Regions from separate parts of the Homo sapiens genome. Here region 1 is linked to region 2. A link means that fine-mapping ties the variant in region 2 to the expression of a gene that starts in the linked region. Tissue or cell type: tibial artery. Region 2 holds a variant in brackets; the other region holds the start of a gene. All regions are shown on one strand. Distances are between the middles of the regions.

Region 1 (2,691 bases), 120 kb before region 2:
CTTGAAGGGGTTAGAAATAACAGAGTCAGAGAAGCATATAGGTAAACATATAATTTCAAAGGAATTGCTGAACGCAGTGATGATACAAGTATGCACAAGGTGGTTCTGTTGGAGTAGAGAACTGGGCAGAATCAAAACCAATAATACCTCATAATTGTATAGTGCTTTACAATTTATACATTTCATTCACCTACATCATCTCACTTATCCTTACAAAGCCCTATATAAAATATTAAAATATTACAACCTCATTTGTAAAAATTAATAAAACGAGGCTCTAAGGGGTGAGAAAATAGAATTTCAGAATCAGAAATAACCTCTGTTAGTGTCCCCCAAACTTCAGTCATTTGCAAATCACCTTTATTAGTTTTGCCATATCTGACTACCACCCATACTATTGTTTACCTAGTATTTTTTATTACGTTGACACACTTGAACTTTTTTTATTCTAAGAAATATTTTTGAAATTATGGGTCTGTGTCATACTTTTAGAAGTTAACATTATAATAAAATAAACTTAAAAAAATTGGTGCCATGCTTTAGAACTTTCTTCAGCACAATACATGAAAATCTTAACACATCTGATGACCGATTAATCCTTCAGTTTCTACTTGCACATCTGCAGTAATCTTAGGCAAGTTCCTTAATTTCGCCATACCTGCTTCGTCATCTTTAAAATGGGAACCCACAGGATTCTTGTGTGGATAAATGAAATCATATATTTAAAGCTATTAGCAGTTCCTGACAGGTACTCGGCTTTCGATAAGTGTTAGCTATCATTGTTAGCTTTAGGGCTGCTTTTTCTTCTTCTTCTCATATTCTCATAATTGTAAAGTCCTTTTAAAATTGTGTCCCCAAAGACACTTCTGTTCCTTTCCCCAATTTAACTAAACTGCCAAAAGTTGAAAAGAGGACTTTAAAGTGACAGGTATACTCGTTATTGTCGTATTTCCCGTCATCACTGCTTTAGAGTACGGAGGTAAAATAATAGGCGGGCGTCAAAATCCTTCGATTTTAGAGCTTTTGCAGGGGATACCAAGACTGAGGTAGAACAGCCCTAAACCTGGAGGGCCGCCTATTGGGCAACCTAGAGCACACCTTTCCTCAGGCCAAACCCAGCGCGCCCGGGGTAGTCTCGAGTTCTCAGGTTACCCCTCAGTGACAGCCCTTTCTTGAGTTCCTTCTCCTTCGCGTCAGTCTCTCGTTCTCCCACCCCGCCCCTCTAGACCAGGTGAGGTTTCCTCCCTCACACTCCTAGGGGACATCGCGTCAATCTGGCTTATATATTGTCTCCTCTGAGTTTGATCTTTCGCTCAACGCCTAGTCACCTGTGACTTAGGTTTCCGTCTCGCCGAAGAGTAGCTACTGCCTAGTGCAAGCACCTTTGTAAGACCGGCGATCGCAGTGGTCGCTCTGAGCAGTAATATTTACCGGCTTAACTGAAGCACCCGCTCTTTTGCTTGCTGGGAGATGTAGTCCCTGGGTTGGCCACTTTAGTTCATCGTTGCTACCGCCGGCGTCCAGAAGACTACAGTTCCCAGCAGGCCCAGGGAAAGACAGGATACCCTGGGTCGGCTCCTCCACGTGACCACCCACTATGGCTTCCTAGTGTCAGGGCCAGCTGTGTAGTGGCTCGGTGTGATTTGTTAGCTCTTTGAGGCAGGGTACCCTCCTCAGGATTTCGATATGCAAAAAATCAAATCTCTCATGACCCGACAGGTAAGTCGCGGCGGCTGAAGCAAAGGCTTCCTTCATCTCGGAAGTGAGAGGAGCCGAGATGTTCTGTCCCCAACCAGTGGCGGGCGGGGATCTAAGTTATGGGTGGTGGCAGGTGTCAGGGGGACTGGGAAGCCGGGGCATACCCTAGAAAACTCACCTGGGCCGCCTGGGTTGGAGCACTGCTCCAGCGGGTACCAGCCTCCCAGAAATATTCGTTTAAAAATAAGTCATTGAAGGAATCAGGGTATCTTTGTCTCCCCTCCTCCTCTTTTTGCCGTCTTTCCAGAACAGCCCGAGCTTCCTTGCAAGGTCTTCCGCATCCAGGCTGTCTGTCATATGCGAGCTGATAGCCTGGGTAGGGTGGTGTGGTCTGTGCAGTAGAGGTGACCTGGAAAGACTGAAAACGGATGATTTGAAGACAGAATTAGTAGCTTTTGGATTTTGGGCAAGTCCCCAAACTTTGTAGCTTACGTTTCTGGATGTGAAAATAATTATTTTTGTTCATTTTACTTCACAGTTCTGTTATGAGGGTCATCGATAAGCTAATATATGTGAAAACTCTTTGTGAAATTCTGCTTTAAAAAATTTATTTTTGTCATGGCAAAATACTGATCTTTTCTTTTTTTTCCCCAGAATGGAAATTCATGAATAAGAGCTTTGGCTATTTTGTAACCTGTCTCATAAATGTTAGGGACCTCGTAATAATGCCTCAGCTTCATTTAAGAAGTGCAGAAATTTTCTTTTATGTACTTATTGATTATGACTTTGTTTTAGCTGCCTTTATTTACTTCAGCTTTAATATTTCACTAGAATTGGTCATTTTATTATTTTAATATGAAAGATAGTTAAGATTAGAGTTTTAAATCAACATGGCTTTTAGAAGTTTGGAGAATGTGGAAGGTAATCGTTTAGTGAAAGGTATATTTGTGAGTTTTTTTCTTGTTGATTACAAAAATAACTCAAATTCCACAT
Region 2 (2,691 bases):
AATTGCACATCAGTTGAATATTCACACTATCATTTGTCTGATTTTTCTTTTGTTCTCATTTGTTATACAAAATAATGTATTAGAAAGTGGGAAGATGACAGTGACAAGCTGACAACAGTCGTGGCACTCTGTATTGAAACCAGCAGTGCTATAAATTATAAAAAGGCTGTGTCAGCAATCACGAATGAAGAGTATTTTAAATAAATTTGTTTAAGTCGAAATGTGAATAATATATGTAATACTTCTGTATAAAATACTCTTTTTTAAAAAAAAAAAAAAAAGCTTGGTCATTTTAAATAAAATAAGCTTTTATTTTCTTGCAACTTTCCTTAAGGTAAGTACCTCATTCCCACAGTTGAATTTTCCATGTTCTGTATGATTGATTGAAGAAATGAAACATTGACTTAATGAGCAATAAAGTGTTGTATTGTTAGGGTTTGTATATTTGTCTTTATTACTTAGTCCACCTTAAAACACACTGTTTCAGTAGTGTAGAATATCAGAATAGGTCTATAAGCTTTTTATCATGAAAAATATATATATACTTTCTATGCTTACATGCTTACACATTTCTTTATGTTTTCAGAGTGTTCATGGGAGAATTATTTCATTTGTTTCTTTTGCATTGCATTGAATATTGAACAGTTTTATAAAACTAAGATTACTTTGAAGTATTCAAAGCTTAGTTTTTATAAAGTAACTCTTGGCAGCCAGATTAACTGGAATACCAGTTTAACTTTCTTACAGACAATTATGTTGATTGAATACAGAGATCCGTGGTCTGTAGAACAACAAAGAGACTTGAACTCATTGGATCTCTTTGCAAATGAGAAAACTGAGGCCCGCATAGGTAAAATGACAGAGCACAAACACAACCCAGTCTTTCTGACTCAAGGCTTATGTTCTCTATTTCCTATAACCCTCTCATTTCTGGGGAATCTGTCCAAATATAGGTTAGAGAAAACTTCAAATACCTGACAGTTTTTTGTTTCTAATTATCCTATAATGTATTTTTTTTTATTGTTTTGCATCTTAGATATGCCAATGTCAAGAAATGCAGTAATGAGGGTCGTGCCCTGATGCAA[T/C]TGGATTTTCAACAGTTTTTAATGAAACTTGAAAAACTAACAGATATTAGACCCATTCCTGATAAAGAATTTGTAGAAACTTATATTAAAGCTTATTACCTAACTGAGAATGACATGGAACGGTGGATCAAAGAGCACAGGGTGAGAGCTGGAAAATAGTTAATTAAGTTTTTATTCCTTTTTCTTTGTGCTGTTCTTGTTGGGTGTGTTATTTAATTCAAAATCATGAGAGTGAAATATAAAGAAACATTTGCTTTTTTAATACAAACTACTTAGGTCAATTCTTTGCCTTATTCAGATTAAGGGCACCGTATCTAAGCAGTGCCCTTTGACTCATCAAATCTTTTTCAGCCCTTTGTGAACTGTTACTGTAATGATCTAGAAATACAGCCAAAGCCAAGACATTAGCTATATTTTTCCTGCAACTGTGTTATAGGAAAAGGCTGAAGTTGATAAATACTGAGACAGATTGAATACAGAAACAATGAAATGATTCATAAGCCATAATCGATTATGTAACTTAAACCTTCTCATACAAACCTTCTCGTACTCCTCAACGATGAAATGGTAACATCCTACACACTGACACGTATTAGTGATGAGTGAAGACATTAATATTTAAATGGCTAAACTTAACTTACATCTTACATTAGATTTTACCTTTAATATAGATTTGATTATTTTTCTTTTGTATGACTATATAGATAACGAAAAATACTATTGTTACGTAGGATGCCGAATTTTTGACACAGTTCAACTCAGTGAGCTTGGTATGGGAAGCTTTTCTGTATATGGCATGTGTTAAAATTATCACCAAATCCTCATTGCTTTGATAACTCTAGGATTTACATTTTCTTAACCTATGAATGTCATGGGTAAAAGCTAAGTCAAGTTTTATTTCATTTGGGTAAGAAAATAATTATTTGTATATACCTGCTCAGACTCATCCTTTCTGGCCTTAACACTGTAAAGAGATAAAATGCATTAGCCTAGAACATTCACATTGGCGTGAATCTTGTGTGAATGTCCCCACTCTTACTCAGTTTCGGATCTTTAGAAGCAAAGTAGGAATGTATGTGTTATTTTTAATGAGTTCGACCAGTAAAGCCAGATTGAGAAAAACTTCACCACGTTTAGCCCCACTGACATTTGATAACCAAAATGTTAAACCTAGATGCAGATAGACTGCTTAATGTTGCTAGAATCCATTTAGTAAAGTAAGCTGTAAACACTTCTGGGTTGGTACTGAGGAAAGGGTTTTGGGAAAGAATACAAAGTAGCCAAGGAGGAAAGGCACAGCTCTATTCGATGCAAGAATGATGCCCGTTTTTTGAATTTCCTCTTTTAATATAGTAGACTGATTTTTTTTTAACTTAGTACTTTGAAAGAGCTTTAACTGATTGATATTTGTAATTCAGTGACATTTCCCCAGCAGCAGCAGGGACTCTTTTCTGTCTTTGAAGGAAACTTCCCACAATGATGAGTCCAGCGATCACTGACGATGGATCCTCACTGAATGCTGAGTGGTTAAATGAGATTACTTACCAGGCGGGGACAGGTGCTCTCAGAGATCAGATACACAAGCTGAGCAGTTTGCCAAGTTTTT

The links. PIP is the estimated chance that this variant, and not a neighbour inherited with it, causes the effect.
Region 1: it holds the start of VPS50, and the variant in region 2 is fine-mapped to the expression of VPS50 in tibial artery (GTEx, PIP above 0.99).

Annotation. Positions count from the first base shown.
Region 1 is chr7:93,230,782-93,233,472 of GRCh38, forward strand. VPS50 (VPS50 subunit of EARP/GARPII complex) reads left to right here and starts at 1,585. Exons shown (of 28, transcript NM_017667.4): 1 at 1,585-1,719. The coding sequence starts at 1,687. It also overlaps a transcript of HEPACAM2 not described here. RefSeq lists enhancers at 1,286-1,355, 1,496-1,665, 1,756-1,805, 2,046-2,105.
Region 2 is chr7:93,354,855-93,357,545 of GRCh38, forward strand. It overlaps VPS50 (VPS50 subunit of EARP/GARPII complex), which reads left to right. Exons shown (of 28, transcript NM_017667.4): 27 at 1,037-1,226. Among named protein-coding and RNA genes, the nearest start is that of VPS50, 120 kb to the left of the region's middle. The variant T/C (reference allele first, on the strand shown) is at 1,086.